Regions from separate parts of the Homo sapiens genome. Here all the other regions are linked to region 1. The links come from fine-mapping of genetic effects on gene expression. A gene starts in region 1. Each other region holds a variant in brackets. All regions are shown on one strand. Distances are between the middles of the regions.

Region 1 (8,105 bases):
CCCAAAATACCACACACACTATAGAAATACACCAATACACCCCCAAAATACCACACACACTATAGAAATACACCAGTACACCCCCAAAATACCACACACATGCAATGCATGTACACACACACTACACACACACACACACACACCCCTCACCACAGAGACTAAGAGCAAGGGAGCAGAGATACTATTGCACAGTGACAGAGGCAGTAAGACAGGAAAAACTGAGCGAAACATAGAAAGACATAGGACAAATAAAAAGTGACAAAGCCAGAAAAAAACTATACATATACTTTTCTGGCTCTAAATCAGTGGTTCTCAATGGAGAATGATTTTGCCAATGTCAGCGTGTAAAGACATTCATGAGCAGCGTGTAAAGACATTCCTTGGTGGTCACAATGGAGGGGAGGGACATGCTACTGTCACCCAGTGAGTGGAGGCTCGGATGCTGCTAAACTTCCTACAATGCCTAGGACAGCCCTTGCAGAAAAGAATTATTTGTTCCGAAATATCAATAGTGCCGGGGTCGAGAAATTGTGCCCCAAATGCGGAAACATCGGGGGCACAGGAGCTCTTTGGAGCTCCTGTGCCTCCAGCTCAGGACTGTGTAACTGTGACCTCTCTGCCCCTCTCAGGGGCCGTCAGAGGAGGCTCTGACACTCTGCCCTGGGGCCCCCAGGGAAGCCTGAGGACCTCACTTTCACTTAGCATTTGAGGCTCAGCCCCAGGCAGGGAGGACTGGTTTAACCACCTGGTCCCCAGGTTGCCTGCTCCAGTCCTGTCCTCCCTCCCTCTTGGCTCCTGACCCCTTCGGTTCTCTTCAGGGCTTGGTCAGAGGCCACCACGAGGGCAGAAAAGAGGTCAGGCCATGCACTCATCATTATGGATAAAATCATTGAGAGGAAGAGCGACTCACTCAGAAGTCACACAAGTCTTATTATTTTTGGAGCCTGGGAAAGGGAACCGGGAGAGGCCAGCCCCGTGAGTGCTCTCCCAGGATCTCCAGTCTCCCCCTCACCACCTTCACCCCAAAACTCACAGCCTCCTGGGCATGCCCACTCCTTGACTGTGGGTTACAGAACCGATTCCTCCCATGTCAGGAGGTGCTGCCCTGGGGTGGAGTGGCACAGAGGGGGCTGTGCTAGTCTCAAGGGAGAAGGAGGTCCACGGCATCCTTCCTGTCCCCTGGAAACAAGCAATATGGGATGCAGGTTTAAGATGTGAGACTGAGGCTGGACGCGGTGGCTCACACCTGTAATCCCAGCACTTTGGGAGGCCGAGGCAGGCGGACCACAAGGTCAGGAGATCGAGACCATCCTGGCTAACATGGTGAAACCCCGTCTCTACTAAAAATACAAAAAATTAGCTGGGCATGGTGGCAGGCGCCTGTAGTCCCAGCTACCCGGGAGGCTGAGGCAGGAGAATGGCGTGAACCCAGGAGGCAGAGCTTGCAGTGAGCCGAGATCACGCCACTGCACTCTAGCCCGGATGACAGAGCAAGACTCCATCTCAAAAAAAAAAAAAAATGCGAGACTGAAAGTGATTGGTGGGGGTGCTTTCAGGAGCTTCTGGGGGTAGTGCCACCTACCCTAGGGCCACCTTCCCTTACTGATACGATGTTAGGTCCAAAGACCAAGAGAACATTGCAGCCAGAAGCTTATATCCTGCAAACTTGTCCTCCCCTCCCATCTGGACACCCCAATTTTGAGTCTGTTGGCTGATCCATGCACAACACCAGGTGGAGGAGGCTGAGGAAGAGGAAGAGCATTGGAAAACAACTTTGTCCTCCTCCTATCCTCCTCCCTCCCTAAGTCTCCCTCCCAAAGCCTCCCTCCCCCAGCCTCTCTCCCCAGCGTAACGAAGGCCTCATTGCTTTCTCTCCTTCCCCACCAGACACTAAACTGGGGTCTTTGAAGCTAAATAGGTCTTTGAAGCGACAAACCACTGGCTTAATGGGCACAAAGGTCTTGGGGTTCAAGGTTTGGGTTCTAGCACCTTCCCCCAACCCAGCCCGAACCCACTGACCCAGGTGGGTGGGGACGAAGCTAATCCAATTGAACTGTTTGCTCAGGACTGCGTGGCCTGGCCTCTGCCCAGCGGCAGGAACACAAATAGCTTTCCACTTGAAGGGGTCCTTCTCTCCCCTGCCCTACCTCAGCATCCACCTCCCTCCACACACCGACTCCCCCCACACACAGCACATATGACACACACCCCATGACATACATACACACACAACACACACCATACATACACACATAGTAAACCCACCATACACTACACAAATCATGTATACACCACACACACACACACACATCATGTACACGCACACATACCTTAAAGGTACCATATACATCACCCACTACACACCATACACACAACACACATGCAACAATCTTTCCACAATACGTATATACACAACACACATGTCACACATACCATCACAGACACCACATCCACACGCTCTACAGGCCATACCTACACATATCACATATATCATACACACGTAGACACATACCAAACACACCACAGGCACATCATATACATACAGCATACCACACACAAAACACCCCACCGATGCACATCATGAACACACGCATAAACACCACACACAAATGCACATGGGCACACACGCCATACACACGCCACACACACACTCCCCTGGCTGGGTCTTCCAACTCTGAGTCAGAGAAAGTTAGGACAAAACAGACTCTGAAGCTAGGAAGTGATCCACACACCTGTGACTCTGAACACCCAGACACCTGCCCCTAGGCTATTGGCACCTGGCTGGCACCAGGAGGTTGGATAAGCCCGGGCTTCTGCCCCTTTCCAGTGGAAAAGTTGAACTAAATGACCTTTCCGACAGCTTCCAGCAAGCTCATGATGGAGCTCTTTGTTGTGGGAAGACGATGGGCCATGCTTAATGCCATCATTCTTCTGTATGACTGTGCGAGTCACTTAACCTCTCTGAAGCTCTGTTGGCCAGTTAGAATGAGGAGGTGTGCTAGGGAGAAAGAAGTGGGCTTGGAATGAGGGATGGGTGTGAATCTTGCCTCTGCCACCTCTATGGCCTTGGGAGAGTTCCTTTACCATGGTGAGCTTTGGTTTCTCCCATCAATACAATGTAGATAATAATACCTGCCTTGCAGGTTTGTTACGAGTTTACCTGGGAACGCTCAGTTAAAAGGCCCAGCACACAGTAGCAGCTGAATGTCACCTCCACGGGAAGGCTGGCAGATAGAATACTTGCAAAACGTGGGGTATATTTATACTAAAAAATTCTTTGTTGTTTATCTAAAATTCAAATTTGACCACGTGTCCTGTATTTTATCGGGCACCCACCCCATGCACGGGGCATTGTGGACAGTCTGTGGAGCTCCTGAGCAGGGGGTCTGCCCAGAGCTAGATTTTGTGCCCTGGCTGGTGAGCGAAGAATGCATTTTACATCTTTGGGGGTGGTTAGAAAACAACCACCAAAACAAAACCAAAGAATAACGTACATTAGAGAGTGTACATGGCTTGCAAAACCTAACATCTTTACATTTCCTATCAGCCCTTCCAGAAAAAGTTTGCTGACCCAAAGGTGATGGGGACTGAGAGGAAAGTCTGGGAGAACTGAGTATCTTCGCAATTTATATACCTATTTCAGGCCTGGCAAGAATGAAACTGGAAGAGTCCAGAAAATGGAATTCTCCAGGACATAAGCAGGGGGAGGCAGAGAGTGAGGCAGGTGGTCGGCAGAAGAGGCACTGTGGGAAAGTGGGGCGCTCCCTCCTGGGAGTCCTCAACATTGGGAATGGGCCTGCCCTGACTCCTCCCCTCCTTTCTCACTGCCTAGAGTCTCTCAGGGTAGGTCACTGGGTGTTCTGACGTCCAAGGGAGGCCTCGCCAGTCTTTCTGAAGGCCTCCCTGGTTGTGACTGGCCTGGGGGCAGGGAGAGAGCCCTGGGTGGAGAAAGAATTGGAGTTGGCACAAGTCCCCCTTGGTAGGCAGGTCTGTGGCTGGCCTGTGTCTTTAAATCTCAGGTAATTTGGGAGGAGGGAGGGCGTGTCCGTGCAGCTTTGGCTCCTCCTGCTCACTCCCAGCAGGAGCTCCAGACAGGCCAGCCCTGCAGAGTCCTGGCTGGCTCTGCCAAGTGTAACAAACTCACAGCCCTCTCCAAACTGGCTGGGGCTGCTGGGAGACTCCCAAGGAACTCGTCAGGAAGGCAGGAGACAGGAGACGGGACCTCTACAGGGAGACGGTGGGCCGGCCCTTGGGGGGGCTGATGTGGCCCCAAGGCTGAGTCCCGTCAGGGTCTGGCCTCGGCCTCAGGCCCCCAAGGAGCCGGCCCTACACCCCATGGGTTTGTCACTGCCCAAGGAGAAAGGGCTAATTCTCTGCCTATGGAGCAAGTTCTGCAGATGGTTCCAGAGACGGGAGTCCTGGGCCCAGAGCCGAGATGAGCAGAACCTGCTGCAGCAGAAGAGGTAAGGCCCCCTTGGTCTGCTCCCTTCCCCACCTCCCCAGGCCTGCACCTCTACCCCTCACCCCTCCCTCACCTCCCGTCTTTGTTTGGCACCTTTGGCTGGACAGATGGTGCTCCCAGGCCCGGACTGGCTCCTTGGGAGCATTCTGTCTTAAGAGCCTCAGCCTGTAGGGCTGGTGAAAGAGGATGGGGTTGAGATGGGCACAGGTGTTCACTATCTTAAGATCTAATTCGATTCTGCAAGCCTCTTGTGAGTACTTCTCTAAGGGCCAGGCGTCTTGCTGGGGCTTGTAAGGATAGAGCATCACAGCCCCTCCACCCAAGAGGGGACGGCAGGTGAGGACAATGCCTTCTGTATCTCCACTGCTTGCCTCTAGAACAGTCTCTCTGGCAGGAACACATAGTATACATATGTTCGCATGGAGGAATGAGTGAACGATTGAATGAATGAAGCAGAGAGAACCGCGGACACCAGGAACCAGAAAATAAGACAAAATGTGAAAAAAGTGACCATTCCTATGTATCTGTCTCATCAGACACTGACCAAGGCCTTACTATTTGCCCAGCACTGGGGGGATATGAAGACCTACAACGCTCAAACCCAACCTTGAGGTGTATTTCTCTCTCAGTGCGGGTGGGGACTGAGGGGAAGCGGGTCAAAATAACAGATGTTCCGAGGACCTGTGCTCTTCCGCATTCAGGTGGTGGAAATCGAGACTCTAGCGTTTAAGCCCTAAGGACATTCACTGGTGGCTTCCAGCCCCTGAAAACTTCCTAAACCCGTGTCCTGCTTTCTTCACCATGACAGCTTGGAGTACAGAGCAGGAGAGGAGCAGGGAATCGGAACTCAGGGCTATCCCTGCATGTGGTCTCTTCTTCAAGGTCTCTAATAGAGTTCTCTACCCAGTTGGTGGCATGCTAGAAGGAAGTCCTGCCTGTTGGGGCTTTCCCTGGGTCACGAAGGAGGCAGATGTCTGGTCATAGAGGAAAGCCTGAAGTCTTTGTGCCTTAGGGTTTTTCTCTGACCCCAAGAGTAGGAGCCTGCTTTAGCCTGACCGGGGAGGCTGCCTGGAGGCCCCTGTGTTTTCTTTTGCTGAAGGATTCTGGGTTGGGGATGGTCTCTTTCTGTGAATTATGGCTTCCCATCTCTCCAGCCGCCCACCTCTCCCCCAAGGCCTGGGAGAGTGGGGACTGGAGCACATGTTTGGCTGATGACATCTTGGGGCAACAGAATGGCATTGTTGTTAGAGAGTAGGTCGTCCTCACTGGCTTCACTCATCCTCTTCCCACTCTTAGGACCCCAGGGCCAGGGGATCCAGGCACAGAGTGCAAAAAGGCCTGGGGGATTGGAAGGGGTGGTGGAGATTCCCTGTGTGCGATATCAGGGGAGAGCAGAGGGGAGGCCCTGCGCTGAGTGGCTGAGAATAGGCTGCTTCCGCATGTCCTGTCTGCCCTCACTTTTCCTCAGATCATATGGGGGCTGCCTCTGCAGACTTTGGCTAGAAAGGCTTGATGTCACCCTTGGGAGGGATCCCCCCTCCCTGCCCTGATCTCCTTACTGGCCTCCGCACTTTCTTGGCCTTCTTCTTGCTGGATATCAGGTGTCCAGAGCAATGACTCTTCTTTGGGTGGGCACTTCCCAGAAGGATGCTGAAATTGCCTGCAAGGGGAGTTTCCTAATCTGTGCCGTCAACCAAAGAGAAGGCATGGGGGCATTGAGATAAACATGGGATGACTAAGTAAATAGGAACAATATGGACAAGTGAGGGGTGAGCTAATGGAAGAAAGGAGCACACAATGATTGAGAACCCAGTGCTGTACTAGGTACTACCACCTGCCTTATCTCCGTCATCCCGGTAACAATAATGGAAGGTGGGTCCTGTTATCCCCCTATGAATGGGGCAGGCCCAGAACCCTAGAGCAAGTAAATGGTGAAGTTGAATTTGTTCCAAAGGGGACTCACAGGGAGAACTGTGGGGTGGGATTGCGTGGGATTCCATGCGGTACAGGATGGTCTAGTGAGAAAGGAAGGCTTTGAGTCTCTCCAGGATGATCGGGAACCCAAACTCCTCTTTTTACAGTGGACGTTTCTTGGTGCTTAGCACGCAGCCCGCTCTGCTTAAATCTACATTGCTGGGATCCAAGTCGAGCTCTCAACTTTCTCCCGTGTCCTCCAGGTCATCTCCCCCTTGGGCTTGGGTTTTCTCACTTCCTGATATTTAATGCATTACACATTTATTGAACATAAGGCACTCCACCTTTCTGCAGAAAATGAATATGACACTGTTCCTGCTCTCAGGGAGTTCTCATTCCTATGACCAAAGTTTACTGAAGGCACATACGGGGCTAAAGATGGGCTTAGTAGACATCACTAGAAGGGTGTAAATGAGTGTTCTGGAAGCATAGAGGGGGAAGTGTGAGATCTGATTTCGGCTGCTGTGGGGTGTCCTGGGCAGCTTCATAGAGGCTGCTTAACCTGAACCCCACTCCAGCCCATGTGCTGGCACTTTGTCATCTAAGGAGCAATTTGGAGGGAAGGTGATGCTTGTTGGAGCTTTTTTTAGGGTTAAATACCTGTATGAAATGTGTGAATTGAGTGTCTGAAAAGTCATCCCTGGGTTTCTCTGGTATATTGTGCACGCTTGCCTTGGTAAATACTTACACACATGCCTACTTGTAAATGCGCAAATAGACATGTGCACAAAAGGAGCTGTGGCACTTAGGATGGCAGCCGATTCCAAATCTCTAAACAACCACTTTGGCTTTCTCATCCCCATTGCCAGGAACATGAGCTGGAGGGAGGTGGCCCACAAGTGCCCAATGTATGCCTCCGCCCCACACATTACCGCTCTTTCCTTCATCTGTGGTCACTGCTCAGGCTTGCCCCCCAACCTCCAAGAAAAATCAGGAGGAGCCATAAAACTAGAAGAACCACATAATTTAGTGGTCAGAGCCTGGGGCTGGATTCTTGGCCAAGCATCCTGCCTTTAACTCCGTGTGATCTTCTGGCAATGATTTGGTTATGCCGCTTCAGTTTCCTTTTCTGAAGCATGGGAGAACTATTCAGCTGGTGTTAGAAGGTTGTAAAGAGCAAAAGTGATAATGAGTGAGATGCTGCGGGAATGAGAGGGGCCATGAACTTCCCCTGCACAGCACTGTATCCACCCAGGAATGCAAGAAGCCACGCACTCCGAGCAACCCTGTTATGTACCAGCCCCAGCCCTGCCCAGAGGGTACACTCACTGGTGGGAAAGGTATTTGTGGAGAGACCAGTGGGACCCATGCCTGTCTTCTCTAACTCCTCTTCCAGCCCTGATTAAAACTGAGAATCGTGACCAAGAAATGACCAGTGGGGCATGCGTCGTGGCTCTGTCTCTGACTTGCTTCCTCCATCTGTTTCATGAGCAGATTTGACTCAGTTTCTGAGGGGCTTTCTAGCTCTAAAAATCTTATTTGAACTTTTCTCAAGAGTCTTGTGATCCTGCCTTGTTTCTCAGCACCTAAAAACCAAATTGGACCCATGCACACAGTGCACACATCTACAAGGATGGAGGAGCAGATGAGGGTGTGGGGCGGAGGAGACGGAGAGAGGAAGTCAGGAATCCTTCCCTGGTGGCCCAGAGGCAGCCCTGAGAAGGAGGTC
Region 2 (8,105 bases), 42 kb before region 1:
CCTCAGAGGAGCCACTCATCGGCCTGTCCTTTCTGTTCTTCCCCCTACACCATGTGCTTGCCTTTGGGGCCAATACACATATGTCTAGTTGGAGAGGCTCCAGCTTTATCTCTTTCTGGGTTCAAATCTGGGTATGGTAGAAGCAAAGATTAACAGAGGTCCTGTAGAATGAGTATCTCAACCTGTTTTGCCTTGAGACACCCACATAAACAAGCTGTTTAGACCTTTGCATCTAAGGGTATAATGCAGAAGAAAGAGGCACCCTGTAACTCACCCCACAACTCTCCACCCCCTGCAGGGACCTGTATCTAAATAACCTGAGGATGCTGGGCGCAATGTAATCCCAGCACTTTGGGAGGCCAAGGCAGGCGGATTGCCTGAGCTCAGGAGTTCGAGATCAGCCTGGCCAACATGGCAAAACCCCATCTCTACTAAAAATACAAAAAATTAGCTGGGCGTGGTGGTGCGTGCCTGTAATCCCAGCTACTCGGGAGACTGAGGCACAAGAATTGCTTGAACCTGGGAGGCAGAGGCTGCGGTAAGCTGAGATTGTACCACTGCACTCCAGCCTAGGCAACAGAGCAAGACTCTGTCTCAAAAAAAAAAAAAAAAAAAAAAATAGCCTGAGGGAGTAGTCAGAACTTTAGTGCCTCACAAATTTCACAAATTTCAAAATGCCTAGGAAAGATCTAGCAGTCGATCCATTCCTCCTCCCTCTGTGTTTTGGTCTCCCAAACTCCCCTTGGTTAAAGACAGTAGATTCAGCAGGCCCAGGAGCAGGGGGACCGCAGATGGAAGTGCCCTCTGTCCCGCTCTCCAACTATCCAGGATCTGAGACAGTTACTCAGGTTAGATGAATTCAGCCAAGCCTAGGGTCCTCTTCTTAGAGACTCTCAGACCACTCTTTCCAGACTACAGGTTCTCTTCCTATTAACTCTTCCCCTCCAGCAGAGCTTCAAGGGCCATCCTCACAGGAGAATCACCATGATGTGAATTGCAAGGAAGGCCCTGGGGCTGACCCTTGCCCAAGTCCACCCTCGGTCATTCGAGTCCAGTAGGCACTTCTTTCCAATTTGTCACTGCACGCTGTGTGAGTCACGTTGGTCTTAAAGAATGTCTTAGATCCCCTTTGCTCTTGGCCTCATTCTGCTATGACTGTCTCTTCCAAACTCACGTTCACCTTTCCCCAGGATTCTAGAGTCTCCACTGCTTCGAGCATCCAAGGAAAATGACCTGTCTGTTCTTAGGCAACTTCTACTGGACTGCACCTGTGACGTTCGACAAAGAGGTGGGATCTGGATTTAATGGGATGGAGGTGGGGGCAGAAGAACCTACTCCTCCTCCCCAAGACTTCGAGTTTGTGAAATAGGGCCTTGGAGGGTGTCTCTGGAGCCTGAGGCCCCTTCCTCAAGGGAATCTGAAAAGTGTCTAACATCTCTGTCTTACTCCAATCCAGGAGCCCTGGGGGAGACGGCGCTGCACATAGCAGCCCTCTATGACAACTTGGAGGCGGCCTTGGTGCTGATGGAGGCTGCCCCAGAGCTGGTCTTTGAGCCCACCACATGTGAGGCTTTTGCAGGTAAGGAGCCTACATGGTAATTCAAGGTGGAAACTTTGAGATGGAGGGTGTGCTGTTGTCTCTTAAAATTGGCCTCTGAAGGATGGGTTGGGGTGGGGTGATGGAGGGTCAGGAGGATGGGCTCCGTTGAGTTGGGAGAAATGCAAAGGTCCTGGTCTTGGCTTTTACCAATCTGTGGCTTCCTTCAGCATTTCCTTTCAAACCTCCCATAGTCCCTGTAGGACCTATCTCAATTTCTTTCTCTCATAGCAACATGAGAATGATTATATTCATAGCAATCCCCTGCTGGCTCCCAATAACTGAAGGGTAGGTCAATGAGCAGGGCAGCCTGAGGGATGAATTGCTCTTAGTCCCAGGCCACCCTGCCAAGCCCAGGGCAGAAGTCTAGCAAAGATCTATCAGGAACCTCCTGAGAGGGATGGTGGGGGATGCTGTGTCCCTGAGAGAACTGGGGACAGAGGGAGACCCTGATGATGGCTGTCTCTGGGCCAGGTCAGACTGCACTGCACATCGCTGTTGTGAACCAGAATGTGAACCTGGTGCGTGCCCTGCTCACCCGCAGGGCCAGTGTCTCTGCCAGAGCCACAGGCACTGCCTTCCGCCATAGTCCCCGCAACCTCATCTACTTTGGTGAGAGCAGGGTTGGGCTTGAAGGATGGTTGGCTGGAGAGGCGGGCAAGGCAGAGGGAGGCCAGGGCATGAGGGTCCTGCCTTCAGCTCCATCTGTTGGGCAGTTGAGAGGGGCAGCCCTTCTAGGGCTTAATTAAGCCAGAGGCCCATTCCCCTGATGGTTCCTTCCTCTGGTTCTGCTGGACGAGTGTCCCTCAGCCTAGAACTGAGATATGGGGGATGAGGAGGAGGCCCTTATTTGGGGGAGACTGCCCACCCCATCCTGCCATCCTGCGTTCTCCTGCCATGGATCTCTCTGTGTCCACAGGGGAGCACCCTTTGTCCTTTGCTGCCTGTGTGAACAGCGAGGAGATCGTGCGGCTGCTCATTGAGCATGGAGCTGACATCAGGGCCCAGGACTCCCTGGGTAAGAGCTGGGATGGGGAGGGGAGCTGGGATGCTGTGGGGAGCGAGGGACAGGGTAAGGAGTGGAGCTGGGACCTTTAGGAAGACCCCAGAGTGGGGATGGGGACATCAGGGACTTTAGGCCAGTGGCCACATGATACCCTGCGTCCTCCCCAGGAAACACAGTATTACACATCCTCATCCTCCAGCCCAACAAAACCTTTGCCTGCCAGATGTACAACCTGCTGCTGTCCTATGATGGACATGGGGACCACCTGCAGCCCCTGGACCTTGTGCCCAATCACCAGGGTCTCACCCCCTTCAAGCTGGCTGGAGTGGAGGGTAACACTGTGGTAAGAGACGCTCCCCATCCCTGAGGTGTCTTTCTAATGACCCTCAACCTATCCTGCTGGCCCTGGGAGAAATAGAGGTGAAGGGCCCACCTTTCTCTAAAATCCCTTTTCCCCAAACTCCCCAAAGGGATGGTGGTCCCTTGCTTCCTATTCCATCACTGAAATCTTCAGCTTCATGGTCCTTGACTCAAGAGGATTTGAGAACCTTACCTTAATGCATGTGCTGTGATAACCCAAAGCTCTAGCTTCCTTTGCCTATTTTCTTCTTTCTGCACTTTCTGGGGTTTTGGAGCAGGAAAGATGACAAAAAAGGGAAAGCTTGTAGATGCAGAGGTTTGCTGGTTCCCACTGTCTGTCTGTCTCAAGGG[G/T]TGGGCAACTGGCTCCATCCAATGGAGTTGTTCTCCTCGACCACCTTCTCACACGTTGGCCCCCTGACTCATCCTGGTGGTCTCTCAGATGTTCCAGCACCTGATGCAGAAGCGGAGGCACATCCAGTGGACGTATGGACCCCTGACCTCCATTCTCTACGACCTCACGGAGATCGACTCCTGGGGAGAGGAGCTGTCCTTCCTGGAGCTTGTGGTCTCCTCTGATAAACGAGAGGTATGGATGCCAAGGAGGATCAGGCCTGTCATGTGAGGGAATTTAGTGTTTGTGCAGAGTCTGTCCACTTACTAAGATCCTGGGCCTGAGACACTTCCCAGCCTTATAATAGGTGGAGATGAGAATAGTCTCCTGGGACATGGGGGAAAGTCCAATGCACACTCCTCTCCTGAATCCCCTGTCTCTCTGCTTAGCTCCAGTCCCTTCTGCCTACCTTTCGCCTTCTATCATTTCAGATGAGAAACTCCAAATAAGAGCTGTTTCCTCATATTCATTCATTGGTTCAGCATTGATATGGTTTGCATTTGTGTCCAAATGCAAAAATTTCATGTCAAATTGTAATCCACAGTGTTGGAGAAGGGGCCTGGTGGGAGGTGATTGGATCATGGGGACAGACTTCCCTCTTGATGTTCTCGTGATAGTGAGTTTTCACAAGATCCGGTTGTTTAAAAGTGTGTGGCACCTCCCCCTGCTCTCTCTTCCTCCTGCTCTCTCTTCCTCCTGCTCCGGCCATGTAGGATGTGCCTGCTTTCTTCTTGGCCTTTTGCCATGATTGTACGTTTCCTCAGGCCTCTCCAGAACCTGTACAGCCTGCAGAACCATGAGCCAATTAAACCTTTTTATTTATAAATTACCCTGTGCCAGGTAGTTCTTTATAGTAATATGAGAATGGACTAATACAAGCATATTGAACACCCGCTGTATGTCAGGCACTGCACAAGAAACAAACAGTACAGAAATAAATACAACACAGTTCCTGTTCATCAACTTCCTCAATTCTCAGTCCCTGTCCTGAATAATTGCAACAGAGCATGACATATGCCGTAATAGTTGTGTGTACCATGCATGCAGACAGCCACATTGAGGTAGAGTTAACTTGGCTTGGATAGACCAGAGAAGATGTCACAGAGGAAATGCTGGGGCTGGATCTTCAAGGAAGAATTGGGAGTCACAGGAAGATGAGAGAAAAAAAAGAGCTTTTTAGAGAGGGAGCAACGTATAGACCATTCAACAATGCTGGGTTGAGTGATGTGAGGGAAACGAAAATTTGTTGAAGACTGCAGTAGAGAGGAGAAAAGACTTCCAGGTTTCAGAACGTTCCATGAGAGTGCCAAGATGTAGTTTCTGTTTTGTATCTGCCACAGTGACAATTTCCCAGGAATCCTTATAGATCCAGAAAACATGAATGATTATTAATACTAACGAATAGAAGAAAAGTTGAGTGGCTAGTTTGTGAGATCTTCCTCAGAGAATATCCCTGGAAACAGATACACTTTGAGCAGGATTTCTTAGGTATTAAAAGCACAATCCCACTGTGTGGATTTCGCCACCACATATCCTTGGTCTTTGATTTAAGCTATTCTCAATATTCTCCAGCAGGTTTCATAAGTGTCTTGGGTCAGTTGCTTTTTTCCTCCATAAATCTTCCTTTCTAGCCCCCTTTCACATCCTTCACTACCTTCAGCTGCAGTTCAGAAGACCTAGACTCCTGATTTAGGACAAAAATAGAGGCTTTCTGGCTGGGGATCCTTCAGCTTCCTGCCCTACACTGCCGAGCATGTCTGGAAACTGCCCACTGTCTCTCTCCTCCCCTCCAGCTTCAGTAGAAAAGATATTCATGCTGTTAATGGCTAATCACTCTACTGTGCTTTGAATCTGTCTCTTTCTAATTTCTCAGATGCCTCCTCCCGTCCATCATCCCCTCTCCTGTGTATCTTTAACGTCTCACTGGCTGCTTATTTCAGAGCACCATCCCACCCTGCCACATCCTACTGCCTGTAACCTCCATTGCTTCTTTCCAGCCCAATAATACTTCTAGAGCAAATCTGACCACTTCCCTGCTTGAACTCCCCAGTTGCTTTCTGTTATATTTAGAAAAAACAAAAAATGCAAACTTCCTACCTTGGCATTTATGATGCATGATGACCTGGCCCTGTTCTTCCTCAGTCATTATCATTTCTGACTACCACTCCCAATAGATTCTCCCCTCTCCCCAACCACATCTCAACTGCAAATGGGCAATGGCTTCTCAGACCTTCCTGACCTGGCAACTGCTGTTAGCTTATGGTATGATCTTTCCTAACTCTCCCTTTACTCATCTAACTACTACTCATCCTTTAAATCCTCTTTGGTGCTATGGTGCCTTGTGTTTACTGCTATAGTCATTTACCTGTATCACTAGCACAAGGCCCAGCCATATGCAGGAAATATACTATTTGTCCGTCAAATAAGTGACTGATGAGCTGAGTGAGTGATGGTTGCTGCCCTGCCTCTTCTGGCCCCCAGTGGGATAAACAACATCCTTCTGTGTTGGTCACCCCAAGTTTCACTCTACTTCCATGCCAGGCTCGCCAAATTCTGGAACAGACCCCAGTGAAGGAGCTGGTGAGCTTCAAGTGGAACAAGTATGGCCGGCCGTACTTCTGCATCCTGGCTGCCTTGTACCTGCTCTACATGATCTGCTTTACTACGTGCTGCGTCTACCGCCCCCTTAAGTTTCGTGGTGGCAACCGCACTCATTCTCGAGACATCACCATCCTCCAGCAAAAACTACTACAGGTGATTCTCCTCAGAAGGGGATGAGAGAGAATTGCATCAAGGGGTGATGGTGCTGGAAACGAAGCCATGCTACTCAGGGACGATGCCACGCTCTGGGTTCCAGCAGGTGTAGGCTCCTAAACACCCAGGTAGAAATTAGACATGAGACCAGGAGGCCACAGATGGGGTTTAATGAGCACAAGAGCATTTGTCCAGGGAGCTGTGGATTTTCTCACACAAACTTTGAAAGAGTGCTTGGCATGAGTAAGCCTGTGCTTTTGTGAAATTTTTTGGTAATTTACAAAAAGTATCAGGGTTTTTTAGTGGGATGTTCAAGGTAAACTCTATTGCTCAAAAGGAGGAAAATTGTGCTCCAAGTCCATTTCTGAGTCCATTTTTGTTGTATTTGGGCAACACAGACAGCCCTGCTGGCCTGCACCCTCTTCTGTGTGCTGTCTATATGGGCCCATGGGAATAATGTGTCAGCTGTCTGACTGCCTGTCAGACACTCTGCAGAAGGATGTCTGGATTGGGTATCAGGCTGAAGTAAATACTCTCTGAGGCTCCATTTAGTGTTGTGGGCCTGCCATTCTGTGTTGTGGTGGCCAAGGGAAAACTAGGGTTAGGAAGAGGACTGATTCGAGGTACACAGTAAATATAGAAATCTGCTGTTGAAGAAAGTAAACCTCCTTTTTGTGCAACAGAAAGGGTAGACTCTAATGAGCACTTCTGAATATATATATTTAACAACTGTAGCTATATTTGAGGGGTTGACTCTTTGTGGATTACTAAAATTTTTGTCCTGGTGAGCTGAAAATACACAGAAGGTGATGTAGGTATGTAGCAGAAAGCAAAAGACCAGGAAAAAGAATTTTGCAAAGCAAGTGAGAACTGAGTGATTGGAGATTTATCTCAATGCAGGAGAGAGCAGCCATAGGTATAGCTCAGCCTGGACTAGGAAGCAGGGTAGTTTCAGTCGGAAAGAGAATATAAACTTTCTATAGCCAAGAAGCAAAAATCCTGAATTTGTTTAGACCAAAGACAGCGATATGCACAGAGAAAGAACAGGGCAAAGAGCCCAAATGAACCCTATGCTAGGTAGAGACACTCCATCTCTCCTGTTTTTAGAATTGCCTTTATATATATACATGTATATGTATATATATATATATATGTATATATATACATGTATATGTCTATATATATATATATGTATATATATACATGTATATGTGTGTATATATATATGTATATATATACATGTATATGTATATATATATATATGTATATATATACATGTATATGTATATATATATATATGTATATATATACAGTGTGTCATGTGTCCAGATACACTGCCTCTCACCAAGTAGGTCTTGCTGCCTGGGGAGGACAAGCCTGAATGTGTTAGAGACACTGGAAGCAGTTGTGCTGCATGCATCTCAGTCTGGCCGCAAAAGTTGTCCCTGGCATGGAGACATGAGGAAAATAAGGACAGTTAGGAGATGGCAAGTGGAGGGAGGAGTGATTAGAAATTGAGAAAACACAAACAAGGTGGGGATGACTGGACTTTTCCAATGCTCCTGGCCCTATTTCCTCAGATATGTCTTCTCCAACCTTCCTTTGTCTCAAATTTACTTGGAGATTTTCTGCATTTTGAAGGTAGACAGGACTCTGGGTTAAAAGGTGGGCAATGCTGAGCCACTGATAACCAAAACTCTCCTTCCTGTGTGTCTCTTTCTCTTTGGGACAGGGCTAGTTATGTACAATCACATTTCTTTGATCCAGATAGTCTGTATGTAAAAGACCGCCTCCTTTGCTTCAGGACTCAGAAGCATAATTATAGCTGAACACCTGACCCATCCTTCTTTCTTTCTCTCTTCTGCCTTCCTTCTTGTTCCTTGGCATTTTTACCCTTTCTGCCTTCTGCTTCAGTGAAAGCCACTTCAGCTCAAAGAGAAGACTTTGGACTTTCAGATATTCTTTTCTTGGTGGAGAAGTGGGTGGGTAAGAGGATT
Region 3 (8,105 bases), 21 kb before region 1:
AAGAACATCTTTCCCCCTGCCAATTCCTTCCATGTTCCATCTCATGGGAACACATTCGGGTCATAGGCACATCGTTGAATCTAAGGAAAGACCAAGGACTAGATAGTGGAGGTGTTGGTGATGGTGGTGGAGGGGAGGTTTGGGGGAAAATAGATTAATTAAGCACAACTGTGTGAAGCCCAGTCCACTCAAACCAATGCACTAAAAGTGATGAGGGAGCAATTCCCTAAATGAAAAATGGGTGCTGTTACCCGAGGAAGGACGGGGCTGCATGATGGCTCAGGAGGAACAATAAACATTTCTTTCAAGGCAAAGAAGAACAGCTATCCAGGGTAAGAGCACAGAATGACTGGAAGTCCTGAGCTAGGAGGGAACTTGGTGCAATTAAGAAACTGAAAGAAGTGTGGAGTAATGAGGAAGATAGGGAGTAGAAAAACATGAGGTGAAGAATTTGCTATTTTGAAGATTGCACTCCTTCAATTAGGAAGCCTTCCTGGTTCTGATCTATTCTGATTGCACCCTTTTGTCCATGCTCTAATAGATCATGGTTTCTTTGAAACTAGAATAGTCCCCAGTATGATTAGGGCAATGCGGTACAAAGCGGGACTATGCCTTTCCTTACTTGGACATAATGCTAAGGGTACCTAAAGCTGAGTCAGGTCTTTTAGCAAATATACAAATGGCCCTTATTAAGCTTGTGATCAGCTAGCACTCCCACACCTTTGTTCTATGACTCACTTATCTAAGCTTCCTAAATGTAAATATAGGACCTTAGATTTGGTTTACTTAAATTTCTTGTTAATGATTTTACACCAGCATTCCAATCTAGCGAGATAATTTTATATTGCTTCTGTTGCCCCACATATTACATATCCCTCCCAGTTTTGTGTCACAGGCATATTTGATAAGCTTGTTTCCCATGTTTCATCTAAGTAATTAATGAGGGCTGAGCAAAGGACAGAACGTGTGGTGGACTTGCTACCAGAAATTTCCCTGCCAACTTGCAGTCATTAATCAACCCTTTTCCTTCCTAAGATGTGGATATTTAATTTGCTGAAAATTCCCTGAACAGTAACAGTATCAATTCATCCCCAAGATCGTAGAGATTCTCTTTAATCATTTTATTTAAATCGAGATAATTGGTCTGTGGCTTTTATATGAAAAAGAAGTTGAGATTAGTTTGGAGTGACTCATTCTCCATGAGTGAATAGTAATGTAAGGGCAACTATTTTATTCAAAACACTCACAAAAAATCCTCTCTCATTTCTTGATGAGTGAAGCTGGTTGCATGGTGCCTGGCACAGGCTGTGGGGTGAATAGGTGGCTGTTCTCACCACTGACCTCTAGTGTCCTATCTCACAGATTGCCTTTGGTTCCCTTTATCAGTGGCCTCAGTGCCTCTTTGAACCTCATGGCTCTTTCAGAGTTCTTCCTGTATCTCCTGCCTCCTTCCAGGTCGTGGCCACCACAGTGATGCTGGAGCGGAAGCTGCCTCGCTGCCTGTGGCCTCGCTCCGGGATCTGTGGGTGCGAATTCGGGCTGGGGGACCGCTGGTTCCTGCGGTGAGTGATGGTGTGCACATGCAAAACTGCAGATGTGTATAAGGCCACGGAAGCAAGGGTGACCGACAGGCGTCCTGGAGCCTACATTAGCCTGTCTAGGGGAGGGGGCTGGAGCTGAAGTGGAGGGGTACGAAGAATGCTGTGTGTACCTCAGGGCAGCCACGTGTAAAAGGTTGTGTGCATGTGTCCATGCTCAGACGTCAGCATGGGTTACCAGACTTGCTGTAACCTTGTTCTGAGCTGACCTTCATCTCCAGTGTACTTTTGGCTTGGATCTAACTTCCTCCTTCATATTCTGCCCTCATCTCCCGGCGTGACTCTCCTCTCTCCTCAAATTTACTTCCTGAATTGCATCTCGTCATCCTTGTGACACGCTTATCTATTAGTTGGCTCTGTTTTCTCTTTCACATTCCTACGTATTAGTAACACACAAACACACACACACCTGTGTGCGTCCTACCACCCTGCAAGCCCTGATTGCTCAGCCTCCATTATCTCTATCCCAGGTTAGCCTGCCCTCCATCACCTCCCTTCACTTGATCCCAGATACTCTTCCTGTTTCAACTCTGCTGCCTTATTTCTGCTTCCCTCTTGACCCTGCTTTCTAAATGGTCACCTCTACTTCTCCCCTGCCCATGTCTCCCCACCTGGATTGAGTCCTTTCCCCTTTCCCCTTATCAGGGTTGAGAACCACAATGATCAGAATCCTCTGCGAGTGCTTCGCTATGTGGAAGTGTTCAAGAACTCAGACAAGGAGGATGACCAGGAGCATCCATCTGAGAAACAGCCCTCTGGGGCTGAGAGTGGGACTCTAGCCAGAGCCTCTTTGGCTCTTCCAACTTCCTCCCTGTCCCGGACCGCGTCCCAGAGCAGCAGTCACCGAGGCTGGGAGATCCTTCGTCAAAACACCCTGGGGCACTTGAATCTTGGACTGAACCTTAGTGAGGGGGATGGAGAGGAGGTCTACCATTTTTGATTAACATCGCTATCACTCTTGACCTTACTCCCGGTTGGCCTGGGGGCGGGGACAGAGACGGAGACCTCTGCCTATGCAAGTGTCTAACTTCTGTGCCTGTTAATCATGGGAGGGTGAGACAGAACAATCCCTAAAGGGTCATGCCTCACACTTCACATCAGAATTTCTGGCAATGGGCAATGGTCATCGATTGTCTCACGTATTTTCTGGGCTCTTGCAAGTCACCCATCTCAGGAAAAAGGAGGTTGGCAACTAAAGACATGAGGCAGGGATGCTAGATTAATGTCAGGACCATTTCTCTTCTGCCCCACGCAGCCCCTAGAAAGTAGTAAGCTGTGAGGCTTTTCTGGCTCCCCAGGGCTTACGTGGGAAGAGCCAGGCATGGCATAGAGGTTGTGGCCCTTCTTTTTTTCCCAGCCTCCTGTAGGTCTCTCTCTCCACTTAGCAAGCAAACACCAACTGCAATAAAAAAGTCTCCTTATTCTTGCCTTCTTTAATTTTTTACTGTGGCACAATACATGTCACATAAAATTTACCATATTATCCATTTTCAGATGTGCCATTCAGTGGCATTAAGTACATTCACATTGTTGTGTAACCATCACCATTATTCATTTATGGAACTTTTTCATCATTCGGAACTGAAACTCTAATCCCCATTGAACAATAACTCTCCAGCTATCTCTCTGCCCTGGTCCCTGATAACCAATATTCTGCTTTCTGTCTATGAATTTAACTATTCTAGGTATCTTATGTAAGTGGGATTCTGCAATCTTAGTCCAAAATTTGACACAGTTTGTTTATTTATTCATCTACCAATGGACATTTGAGTTTTTTCTACCTTTTGGCCGTTGTGAATAATGCTGCTATCAATATGGTATACAAATATCTGTTCTAGTTTCTATTTTCAGATACTTTGGGCATACACCTAAAAATGGAATTGCTAGACAATTCTTATGTTTAGTTTTATGAGGAACTGCCATACTGGTTTTCACAATAGCTTTCACCATTTTACATTCCCTTCTAATGGGTGTGAAGTGGCTTCACATTGTAGTTTTGATTTGCCTTTCCCTAATGACTAATGATACTGAGCACGTTTTTATACACCTATTTATTGGATGTTTATATACCTTCTTTGGAGAAATGTCTTTTCAGTTTATTTGTCCATTTTCGAATTAGGTTTTTGTTGTTGTTGAATTGCCTTATCTTTGCTTTTTGAGGCTCACAGTCTGAAGTGTTTGCATCCTGGTGTGTTTTTAAGAATGTATGGTAAATTAGGCCTATATTTGAATGGCCTAATCATTTCTTTTCCAGGACCCTCCTGCTCTGTCCCTAGCAGCTAATCATCCTTGTGCCTGGAGGCAACAGGCTCCTGCTTGTTCTCCTGACATAGCCATCCTCCATTCCCATCTCCCTTTGCCCCACACTGAGTTGTGAAAGGAACAGCAACAATAGAGGAAGGGTCATCCCTCTCCAGGAGGGAAATTAGGAATCATGTGTCCAGGGCACCCATTATAGGTGCTCATGGTCAGCCTCTCTTGTGTCTCCAGCACTATACTTCTAATCCCAGCCCCATCATCACCCTTAGCAAAAAGCCATGTCAGCTTTTCAAAGGACTGTGGTCTGGGATAACAAAGAAGTAAGTGGTATTTGTGAAACCACAGACAGTTAATTCAGATACACCAGCCCAGGGCTGAGTGCCCAGCAGTGAGGGAT[T/C]GCACAATGTGTATACACACGCCCGCACACACTGGGACACAGTGGTGGCAGGGTATGTAAAACTGCTCAGTCACCATCATTCTTCTTTATTCTCTTCATAGTAGAAGCACTTTAAAATTCTGCTTCTGTAGTCCTTTTTTTTTTTTCTTGAGACAGGGTCTTGCTCTGTTGCCCATGCTGAAGTACAGTGGTGTGATCACTGCTTACTGCAGCTTCGACCTCCTGGGCTCAAGTAATCTTCCCCCATCAGCCTCCCAAGTAGGTGGCACTACAGGTGTGCACCACCACACCCAGCTAATTTTTGTATTTTTTTTAGAGATGGGGTTTTGCCATGTTGCCCATGGCTAGTCTTGAACTCCTGGTCTCAAGCAATCCACCTGCCTCGACCTCCCACAGTGCTGGGATTACAGCATGAGCCACTGCACTAGCCCTGTAATCTTTTTAATACTTGCTTAACTTGTCTATAAACTTATATGTCTTTTGATTTGAGCCCTTGGCCTGCCCCCAGGTATTGTCCTTTGTCCTGGCTTGTGCACCTGGTATGTAATTAAAATTGCTTACTGCCTAGGTTTTTCACTAAAATAAGAATTACTAAGAGTTAACATTATAAATTAATGAATGTAATTAAAACTACTAGGTACATACAATGTGTATTAAACAGGTAGGCTGTGTTTTTTTTTGGAGAACAAATGTTAAAATAAGTCATGGGAGTGTGGTTCTTTTTTAAGAGAAAGTGTTTTTTTCTAGTTTAGAGGATTTTAAGGACTGTTTCAAGTTAACAGAAACGACAAAACTGAAGGTTTAAGCAAGTCGTAGAAGGTTTGTGGAAGATTGATCTTGTAAAAGGAATTTTGTGTGTGATCAAGTTTGGCTAAAATTTTAAGGGGATTATTTAGATATTATACAAATTGAACATTCATATAAATAGCACATTGATGCAGGGTCAGAATCTGAGCACCTGTGTGAGGCAGGATTTTCTTGGAATATTGATGTGTTCTTTAACACAAATTTGTAAAGTTTATAAAAGCCTCATGGAAATCTTACCTTACAATCAAACTAATTAAAATTTGGTAGATTTGCTTATAAGATTCTATTAAAGCTTTAGAATTAACAATACAGTAATACAAAAATAAAATTTGGTTTTCTCTTTTAAATAAGATTTTTGTATAATATTAAGAGATAGTAAAAGATTTTCATTTGCCCTTTGAATAAACTGCCAAAAAAATTAAAGAAGAAGGAGAGGAGAGACAGATTCAGTTGGCTTCACACTGTCTCTATTAGGTCCTATTTTTTAGAAAACTGAGGTCTTCTTTATCAAGGAGTAAAGATTTCTGCTTTTTTTTAAAATTGGTGAGTTATCACTTTAGCTAAATGATTATAATGACCTGTAATCTCATTTTGCGATATCAAGTGCTTTAAACTTTTAATGTTGGACTAACTTTCCAAGATTAAATTCTAAATGCAGTCTTTTAACCTCAAACTGACTTTTAAATGTCCAACAGAGGCATATTTGGCTTATTTGATATGTTAAAATCATACAGGAGGCATTGCCAAGTATAAAATGGTGTGTAACTTTCTTTGAAATATATTTATATAAATGTGCTATTGTTATGTGTTCCAAAATTGTATAATATTCTTATAATTTTAATATGTCTTGGTATATGTGATCAGTAATAATTATAATTATGGTAAATTATTGTGTGCCACAGAAATAACCAGATTTCCTTGTCAATTATATCTTTGACTGTGGATATCTTTTGTCATTCACAATTATTATTTTACTTTGTTCCTTTTCAAAAAGTTGCTTATAATCAGTTATAGGACTCTGATGGTGTATTAGTTCATTCCCATGCTGCTATGAAGAGATACTTGAGACTGGGTAAATTATAAAGAAAAGTTTAATTGATTCACAGTTCTGCATGACTGGGGAAGCCTCAGGAAACTTAGAATCACTGGAGAATCACCTCTTCACAGGGTGCCAGGAGAGAGAATAAGTGCCAAGCAAAGTGGGTAGCCCCATATAAAACCATCTGTTGCCCATGCTAGAGTACAGTGGGCAACTCACTGAATGAGTGAGTTCTCATTAGAACTCACTAGCATGAGAACAACATGGGGGGAACTGCCCCCCATGATTCAATTACCTTTCACTGGGTCCCTCCCACCACATGTGGGGATTATGGGATTACAATTCAAGATGAGATTTGGGTGGGGACACAAAGCCAAACTGTATCAGATGGATACTTTTAAATGCAGGTTTCTGACAGCTTTGGAGATTGTGCCATTAAAATAGAGGAAAAAAATCTTCCAGGACACTCCTGGAGATCTGATGTATTCATGAGGATTGTTGACCCAATATCAAATAGAACAGAGGTTAATTGCATGAACTGAGCTAATAGAAGACTAAAATAATTTTTTGTGTGATCTTTTTGTCTGAAACATTGGTGATTCTTTTCATTTTTTGGGTTGTTTACAGCTTTTAACAATTGAGTAAAATATGCTCTTGTGAGCAAAATTTAAAGCATATTTCTTTCTCTCTACCTGATTTCTCCAGAATTTGAAAACTATTTTTGAGTATTCTTAATTTATAACAATATAGTTATTTGTATGAGCTCAATAAGAATCTGCTTTCTTTTGTAACAGGACACAATTGGAGACTATTATTTTACTAAAGCTTTGACTAGAATGAAATATTTTAAGCTATAAACAAAACAACAAACTGTTTTAAGGAATTGCCATTGACTTATAGAGCCAATAAAAGATCCTTAAAAAAACTGGCCTTGTACCTTGCCTACACAATTCTTTTACAGGGTTCCCAACCTGTGATAAGTAAAGAACGTTACTTTCTGGCAGGCCCGGGAACCCCAAGTTATCTTGGGATTAAGAAGAGAGGCATTCGCCCAGTTCATACAGATATCTGCAGGCACAAATAAATTCTTGACTGGGCTTGGGGCCTTTAAAAAGTCTAAACTAAGATTCCTTAAATAAAAAAGTTTCCAGCAAAGTCAATTTTAAAAAAGCCTAAATAGAAAATAATTATTCTTGCTGCACTTTATACAAAGAATCAGGTGAAGTATAATACAACTAAAGCTTTTCTACAAATAAATTAGTCCTACTATGATTTGTCTTTGATAAAAATGGAGGACTGAGATAAAAATTATGTTTTTTTTTTTTTTTAAAAAAACATATAAAACACCTCTTCTTAGACCCCACCTTATCAATTGTTTCTCAGTTTCATTCTTTGTTAAAATGCATTTGGACTGAATCCTAAGTCCTTTCCTGGCTACAAGTCTCCAAACTACTGTTCATTTTTTTTTTCCTTTTTCTTTCATTTTTTCCCTTTTTTTTCTCATTTGGAATCTAGAAATTAAAACTAGAAATTTTAATTTAAAATTAAATTAAAATTAAAACTGTGCTTTTCTTAAAGTTCTGCCAAGTGAAACTTGAAACTTAAACTTTGGGAAAAGTAACAGCAAATTATTTATATATATAAACCACTTTTGTGCCTGCCTACTCATTCATGGACTTCAGAGCAATATAGCCTAAATCAGTTTTCCAGGATTACTTTCCCCTTTTGTTGTCATGATCTTTCCTCCTTTTCTACTGGTTTTCTTTCTCTCTTCTTTCCCCTATTTTTCTCTGTGGAACATGAAACTTCACAACCTGCTAAGAATGATCCTTTCTAAAATGAGGGACCTAACCCTCTAGAAATAAACTGTCCTAGTGACAAGGGATCAGACCAAACCTGAGATCAGACACTCACTTTCTTCTACAATGCTTTCCCTGAAAGATTTGGAAGAACAGGGTGGGAGGATGTGAAAGGAAAATAACATCTTGGGACCTCAAACTCACTA
Region 4 (8,105 bases), 70 kb before region 1:
TGATGGTGGAATGAAAGGGGTAGGATGGTGGGGTGAGAAGTGAGAGAGGGCTTCATCACTGTGCATAAGAGAAAAAGTGGGTAAGTACAAAGGATATGCTGGAAGAAGAGGAGAGCTGAGTTAATTGGCAGTGGAAGTAAAGTTCCTGCAGATGGAGGCTGGAGAGGAAAACTGCCAGGACTGAGAGGAAAACCAGAAGGATGAGCTGAAACTGAGTAGGAGGTTGGAAGTGCGTCCCAGGAAGTTGGTGGATGGTGGTGAGGATTTGGGAATAAGAACATATAAGATAGACATGCATTTCCAGTGCAAGGGAACCTAAAGAATGTGTTGACACTATCAATTAGAATCTGGGAAAAGTAAATGCACCCCTCTGCCCTCTTTTTTTGATGGGGAAAGAGTGGGAGGGGGCCTCTCTTTGGGTAAATGGATACTTTCAGGGAAGGCACAGAGATAAAAAGAAAAAATATGCTCAGGATAAATTATATTGCCTACAATGGGATGAATAGATATCAGGGGGACTGAGGGTGAAAAGAGTGTTAGATATTAGAGGGTGGATGATTCAGAGAGACTTGCATTTGATTATTGTAGTGTGTTTGTTTCCTGGGATCAATGGATGAGGAGTCTGGACTAGAAGAGTCTTCCCCTGTTTCTTCTCTTTGCTAAACCTTTCCTTATGAGTTTTCTTCTCTCCAAATCCTTAAAGTTCTCTAGTTCCCTGAATTTGTCTAATTTCTTCAATCATTTCTTTTGTCTTTCATTTCTCTCTTTTCTCCTTTGCCCATATCCCACTTATTGCTACCTTTCTCCTTTCTTCCCTGTCTTTTCCTTCTTGGTTTCTTCCCCACATTTCTTTTATTTTCCATATTGTCTTCTTCTCCTCATTCTCTTTCCCTGCTTTCATCATTTCATCAAGTTGATCCATTCCAAATTGGGCAGTCCTCTCATCTTTCTTATTTTCCTCATCTCTATTCCTCCCCCTCCTTCCATATTCTGTGGGAGTCTTTCTTTCCTGTAAGCTCCCTGTCTCCCACCCTCCCTCTTTGCCTCTATACCAGTTGCCACTCCTTTAATTCTCCTGCCGACAAAAAGAGTCAAACTCTGTAAAATATTTGAAAAGATTTATTTTGAGCCAAATATGAGTGACCATGGCCCATGATACAGTCCTCAGGAGATCCTGAGAACATGTGCCCAAGGTGGCTGGGGCACAGCTTGGTTTTATACATTTTAGAGAGTCATGAGACATCAATCAAATACATTTAAGAAATACATTGGTTTGGTCCAGAAAGGTGGAACAACTCAAAGGGGTGGGGGTGGCTTCCAGGGTACAGGTGAATTTAAACATTTCCGGATTGACAGTTGCTTGAGTTTGTCTAAAGATCTGGGATAGATAGAAAGGGAATGTTCAGGGTAAGATAAAGATTGCGGAGACCGAAGTTCTTTTGAAGTCTTATAGTGGCTGCCCTTAGAGACAATAGGTGACAAATGTTTCCTATTCAGATCTTAGTTAATCAAAAGATCTAGCTATGTTAATGAGATATGTTAATAGCTAATAGAGATGCTTTACAGATGCAAATTTTCCTCCACAAAGAACAGCTTTGCAGGGCCATTTCAAAATGTGGCAAAGAAACATGTTTTGGGGTAAAATATTTTTGTTTTCTTCTTTGTCTCGTAATGTTATGCCAGAATCAGGTTAGAAAGTAAATCATGTTACATGGGTTAAATAAAACCCATCTGATGAGAACTTATGATATAGGGCATGACTCCCCAGACCCCTTTGATAGGAATTTGGGGCAAGATAAAAAAAATCAGAGTTTAGTCCTCACTCCCATGCTTCCTTTCTAGAGGTCCAGAATTCCTGGCACCCAGGCTCTGGGGAGGAGAAAGCCTTCCAGTTCTACAACTCCTGCATGGATACACTTGCCATTGAAGCTGCAGGGACTGGTCCCCTCAGACAAGTTATTGAGGAGGTGAGAAAAGTTGGGATATTAACTTTTCTGGATACATAACATATGGGACCAATGCATGCTTAGGGCTGCCATTTTTTTTTCTAGAGGGTGGGTCTTCTTCCTAGGGCCCCCCAATTTCTAGGAGGGAGATGGAGATGGAAATGGTTATGCCCTATGAAAGTATCAGGACCTTGGGAGAAGGCAGATAAAAAAGGATAGATGTGGCTTCCTAGAGGAATCGAAGGGCGCAGGGCAGAGGTCAGGCAGTAGCAGCTGTGTAAGAGCCGATCCAGACAATGGGGGATGGGCTCCACGGATCCTTATGCTCAGCCCCCTCTCTCTCCTTTAAAGCTTGGAGGCTGGCGCATCTCTGGTAAATGGACTTCCTTAAACTTTAACCGAACGCTGAGACTTCTGATGAGTCAGTATGGCCATTTCCCTTTCTTCAGAGCCTACCTAGGACCTCATCCTGCCTCTCCACACACACCAGTCATCCAGGTGAGGGATGCACTGGCGAAGACACAGTTGGACCTGGCCTGCCTCCAACTCTAGCCAATCATCCCTTAGAGGAAGGTTGCAGGTTGGGAAGAGAGGACACCTGTGTGATATAGGAAACAACCCTACCTTAAGGGAAAATTATTGATGTGAAAGTCAGGGACATTAGCTGGGGGTGGGAAATGGAGCAGCAGAGCCAGTGCTGGGAAGACAGAAGTAGGCCTGGTCTTTCTTACTGTTAATCTGGATTAGTCTCAGAGCCCCTTAACCAGTCCTCCTATCTCTAGGATTGCCCTCATTTTATTTACTCTTTATTTTTACTAGAGGGAACTTTTCTAAACCAAGGGCTAACTAACTATGCTACTGTCTGTATTTAAATGCTTGTCAGTGACCCAGTGGCTTGCCAGGTCATCAGAATCTAGTCCCTAATCTTTAGTAAAGCTTTGCAAGCACCTTGTGATCTGACCCCTACACACTTCTCCAGCCTTATCTCCCGTACATTCCTTCTCTCCCTTACCCCCAAGCCATGCTGACTCACTGCTGCTTCCAGGAATATTCCTCAGTTCTTTGCCTATGCTGCTCCCTGTGCCTGCAACCATCCCCCACACTGAACCTGGAAAACTTACATGTTTTTCAAATGTTGGCTTTATTATCTCTTCCAGGAAGTCTTCACCGACACCCTAGTTATGAGTTAGGTGAAGCCCTGCTCTCCCTACTTTCGTTTCCTCATGCTCTCAGCATTTATCACTCTGTGTTGAAGATTGTGAGCCTCTTTAGAACAGGACCATGCTTTATTCACCTTTGTTTCTCAGGACCTATCACAGGGCCAGGCAGCTAGAAGTTTTGCCAGGTATTTGTAGTGAGTGAGTAACTAAATAAAAACACTGGAGCTATCACTCTTGTGGTTAAACAATGTAATGCTATCTGCATATTTGGGCCCTACTGTCAAAAGAGCCACAAAATTACCAAAGGATAAGTACAAAAGAAGAATTGATTATCATTATGAGGTGTTCTAAAATTTAGTTTTAAACAGTCTGCTCAGGAGTTTAACTGATGTGGCCTTTAGGGGCCGGTTAAGATCTGGTTAAGGAGAGGCTCAGAGAGGAGAGAATGAGAGAAGGTGAGCTAAGCCAGCCTTGAAACATGGTTAATTCACACAAGTGGAGGTGAAGCTATGGGGCGTTGGAAATGCTGAGCCAGGGGGAGGACCTGGAATGGTGTGATTCCTTCGTGGAGTCAGTGAGGAGGCTGATCTATTTAATTGAGGATTTGGGAGGCAAGGTGGGGTGCAGTGGGAGGTAAAAGTGAGACTGAAGACATAAGGTTGAGCCTGATTATTTCTAAGAAGCCAGGCGAAGGTGAAACATTTGACATAATAGAAAAAAAAAAAAGAGCTACTGAGGCCATCCAACTCTTATGACAATTGTGCATAGAGCAAGTATTTTGATGGTTGTGCGTAGAGTCAGCAGTTTTGAAGGTCAGTCTGGGGGTGTTGAGGAAACTAAATGAGCATTTTTGAGGCCCTGAGATAGAGGTAGAAATGGAAAGGAAGAGCCAGGCACAAGGATTTAGGCAACTTCACCCTAGTGATGATAGTTCATGCTGTTTCTAGAGGATTTGGTGACTGATTGGATATAAAGAAAGAAAGTGGGGGATTACACAGTGATCCCATTGTTTTGATTTAGTGTGAGTGGGAGGAGGGTGATTATCATCAGTGTGAGCCTGGATAGTCTCTTGGGTTAAAAGCAGGTAGGAAGAATGGACTACAGAAAGAGAAGTCCAAAGACTGAGGGCAGAAGGGAGCCAGGGAAGAGAGAGTACTATTGGAGAGATGGGAGCTAGACCAGTATGGTGGGCCACAAAGGAAAGAAAAGGAGCTTCAGGAAGGAGGGGTCAGCTCAGAGAAGAAGGAATGAGAAGACACCCTTGGATACCTAGAGATACTTTCCAAACAGTTATGGCAGTGGACACAGAC[T/A]GCACAGAGCTTAGGAGGAAGATAAGAAAGTGGAAACAATGGGCATAGATGCTTTTTTGTTCTTTGAACTGTGGACATACAATGTAGCAAAAGGGTCAAGTGAAAGTTTTTTTCGAGACAGAAGGAAAAGTATATGGCTCAAGATAAGAGTGGGATATTGAAATTGGAGAAGAAAAGGGAAAGAGTAGAAGCAAAGATCTTCAGAATAGAAACAAGGGTTCATCAGGGCCAGACTAAGGTGAAATATACATGGTGCTTACCTGGGGTGCTAATTTAAGAAGGTCCCCAAAACTCAGTATCATGATAAATAGTATTTTATTAAATATTCCTAAAAAATCAAAATCAATGCAACAATACATGATGGAACAAAATATCAAACTTTTCTTCATTATGAATTTTTTTGAAAAAAGATTATGCTTTTTTTCCCAAAAAATGGGACAAAATTCTGTGTGAATCTTTTTGAAAATACTAATTTTTTTATTCAAAATGAATCAAAAATACATTGAGGACTTTTCTTGAACACATCATGATTCTTTTCAAAATTGACTAAAAGTATGTTTTTTTGGGGAAAAAAAGTCCATGATAAGCAAAGTTTTGAGATTTTATTTATCATACATTTTTGGTAGTAATTTTGATTTTTTAAAATGTTAATTATTTATCTTGATTACTGAGTTTTTTTAAAAAAGAGTTTATTTGAGCAAAGACTGATTTATGAATTGGGCAGCATCCTGAAGCAGTAGAGGTTCAGAGAGCTCCACCCAACAATGCAGGCAGGCAGTATTTACAGAAAGAGGAAGTGACACCCAGAAACAGCTTGATTGGTTACAGCTTAGCAATTGTCTTTAATGGGCATGGTCTGATCACTTGACAGCCTGTGGTTGCCTGAAGATCAGCTGGTATGGCTGGCTGAGATGGAGCTACCTGTTGCAAGAATATACTCCTAAGTTAGGTTGCAGTTTGATTACTGAGTTTTTGGTACCTCTTAGATTTTGTACCTGGGACAGGTTCCTCACCTCACTCACCCTGGCCCTGTTCCTGAGACAAGGAATAGCTCCTTTTAAGATGCTGATTATCATGCTTCTGCCTTGCTGGGCACACCCACACTGGTTGTAATACTCACCATCTCTTCCCATTTTCACATCTGGACTCTTCTTCTCATGCCCCTCAACCCTTAATCCCTCCCTTTCTTTGTACTCTTGCTTCTCTTCTGTCCAATCTTTGTGTCCATCTCCCAAGGCCATCTCCCATGGTATATTCCCCACCTCCCCACACCTGCCCTCTCCATCCGCCATGCTCCCTGCTTCTCTCCAGTCTCTCTTGTGCCCAGATAGACCAGCCAGAGTTTGATGTTCCCCTCAAGCAAGATCAAGAACAGAAGATCTATGCCCAGGTAAGATGGCACATGGACAAAGGCCCTGCCCTCTGAGGCCAGGAGAAAAGCAGGGACCTCTGGCACCTGTGACTGACATTTCCTTCCTCCAGATCTTTCGGGAATACCTGACTTACCTGAATCAGCTGGGAACCTTGCTGGGAGGAGACCCAAGCAAGGTGCAAGAACACTCTTCCTTGTCAATCTCCATCACTTCACGGCTGTTCCAGTTTCTGAGGCCCCTGGAGCAGCGGCGGGCACAGGGCAAGCTCTTCCAGATGGTCACTATCGACCAGCTCAAGGTGCCTGGAACTGGGGGCCAGAAGACTGTGGGCATGGGGATCTTCCTCTCAAACATTACCTCCTTTCCTTCTTCCTCCTAGTGCCCTTAATACCTTTTCATTCTGTCTCTGACTCCATCCCCTCCCCCAGTTAGCCTGTTCTCTTCTTTTTCTCACACCCAAGGGGAAGCCCTTTCCCCTTCCTTCTCTTTTCCTTTTCCCCCTCAGCTTTGTGTCCCTCCTCTAAGGAAATGGCCCCCGCCATCGACTGGTTGTCCTGCTTGCAAGCGACATTCACACCGATGTCCCTGAGCCCTTCTCAGTCCCTCGTGGTCCATGACGTGGAATATTTGAAAAACATGTCACAACTGGTGGAGGAGATGCTGCTAAAGCAGAGGTTCGCCGCAGGTGGGATTGGGGAGATCATGGAAATGGAGGAGAGCCTGAGCACCGTAGATCTTGGGGGCAAAGGAAACCTTGGGGAAGGCAGGCTGGTAAGGGCCTCCCAGGAGGATAAGAGGAACCTGCCACCTGTGCGGGCAGAGAAGCGTGGGGTGGGTGGCACAGAGAGGATGGAGGGATCAAGAAGGATGTGTCTTGGGAGCACGAGTAAGGGAGGATACACACGACATGAGGAACGCAGGGTCAGCCAAGACACGGGGTTTCCTGAGAGTAGAACACCAGCCAGTCAAGAGCCTCTGAGCTGTAGAAGATGCTGGAAGACCCAGACACAGAAGACAGTTAAGTGTATGTATGTCTTTTTAGCAGCTGAGGACTGTGGGCAGGAGGAGGAGGCACATGAGATGAGGAGATGAACATGGTGAAGGCTGGGGATGCTTAGGGGAAGAAAGGAAGAGGAGGGGCCATTCCTCAGGTGTGGTGTGAAGATGCTGGAGCTCTTATGGGAAACAATGTCTAAGAGCATTTCTGCTGGTGTCAGGAAATCAAGGGGGTGTTGGGGTTGGGGACATGAAAGAGTGGCTCTTTGTTGGGCTCTCTGCCTCCCCTGATACCTGGGTGGCTACCACCTGAAAGCAGTGGCTTTCTTCCAGGGGCTTGGACCTAAGGGCCTTCTTCATGGTGGCAGCAGCATCTGGAAATCCTTTTTGAGGGAGGTAGCTGCCCATTCACATGGCAGTGAGCAGGCTTACATAAGGGTGCAATGCAGCCCTGGCAGGAGCATTGCTGGTGGAGGAGAGAGCAGTCACAGAGACCAGCTTACTTATGCTTATGAGATACATCTGAGGATAACCAGAGATATCTTGACTGTGGAAGCAGAATCTGTTTCATGACATGAGTCCAGACTCCATCTAGCCCAGAACTTTCTTTCCCTGTGACTTTGAAGGCTGCCTCTTCATCTAGTTTCTTTTACTAAGGAGCTAGATCCCACCCCAACCTACATCATGAAAAGCTCTTTTTGACTTGGGTGCATGTTAAAACACTTATTAATACAGAGGAGAAGGAGCTGCCTTCACGAGTATCAAGGTGACTTACACAAGGAGAGGCTCTTCTTGAAGCATCCCCAGATTCCTGGGGTATATGTGTGGGTCTCTTTTGTCTCCATAGGGACTTTCTGCAGAGCCACATGATCTTAGGGCTGGTGGTGACCCTTTCTCCAGCCCTGGACAGTCAATTCCAGGAGGCACGCAGAAAGCTCAGCCAGAAACTGCGGGAACTGACAGAGCAACCACCCATGGTGAGGAGAGGAGCGGGTGTATTTGCCCAGATACTCGAAAGGAGTATCTACTCTTTTGAGGGGTAAATGTCGGCATCTCTCTCTCAGGGAGGGGGCCGTGATGGTAGATGCCCCTCCATGTCTTGGCTTTCCATAGAAGCAGGCAAGTTGGACAGACAAAGTTTAACTTGAAAACCAAGATGCCACGTGCCAGACCTTCAGGCACACATCTCCCAGCCTGACTACCTCTCTGGCTTCTTGCTGGGTGTTTGAGCTCAAATATAAAACTCTGATATTATCAAAACTGCCCTTTCTTTGTCATGATGCTTACACTATTTGCTCAGGATAACTTGGACTTAGAGCT

The links.
Region 2: its variant is fine-mapped to the expression of TRPV6 in whole blood (TOPMed, PIP 0.96).
Region 3: its variant is fine-mapped to the expression of TRPV6 in whole blood (TOPMed, PIP above 0.99). The same link has a PIP of 0.9 or more in blood mononuclear cells and monocytes.
Region 4: its variant is fine-mapped to the expression of TRPV6 in whole blood (TOPMed, PIP 0.97).

What each region holds. Positions count from the first base shown.
Region 1 is chr7:142,881,747-142,889,851 of GRCh38, reverse strand. TRPV6 (transient receptor potential cation channel subfamily V member 6) reads left to right here and starts at 4,107. Exons shown (of 15, transcript NM_018646.6): 1 at 4,107-4,463. The coding sequence starts at 4,216.
Region 2 is chr7:142,923,532-142,931,636 of GRCh38, reverse strand. TRPV5 (transient receptor potential cation channel subfamily V member 5) reads left to right here. Exons shown (of 15, transcript NM_019841.7): 2 at 1,191-1,288; 3 at 1,457-1,579; 4 at 2,072-2,209; 5 at 2,517-2,615; 6 at 2,771-2,946; 7 at 3,403-3,549; 8 at 5,896-6,108. Among named protein-coding and RNA genes, the nearest start is that of TRPV5, 6.2 kb to the left of the region's middle. The variant G/T (reference allele first, on the strand shown) is at 3,315.
Region 3 is chr7:142,902,947-142,911,051 of GRCh38, reverse strand. TRPV5 (transient receptor potential cation channel subfamily V member 5) reads left to right here. Exons shown (of 15, transcript NM_019841.7): 14 at 1,456-1,562; 15 at 2,244-2,951. The coding sequence ends at 2,538. Among named protein-coding and RNA genes, the nearest start is that of TRPV6, 21 kb to the right of the region's middle. The variant T/C (reference allele first, on the strand shown) is at 4,255.
Region 4 is chr7:142,952,166-142,960,270 of GRCh38, reverse strand. KEL (Kell metallo-endopeptidase (Kell blood group)) reads left to right here. Exons shown (of 19, transcript NM_000420.3): 5 at 1,843-1,967; 6 at 2,298-2,444; 7 at 5,744-5,806; 8 at 5,899-6,087; 9 at 6,315-6,463; 10 at 7,633-7,762. Among named protein-coding and RNA genes, the nearest start is that of KEL, 6.1 kb to the left of the region's middle. RefSeq lists an enhancer at 1,778-2,493. The variant T/A (reference allele first, on the strand shown) is at 4,417.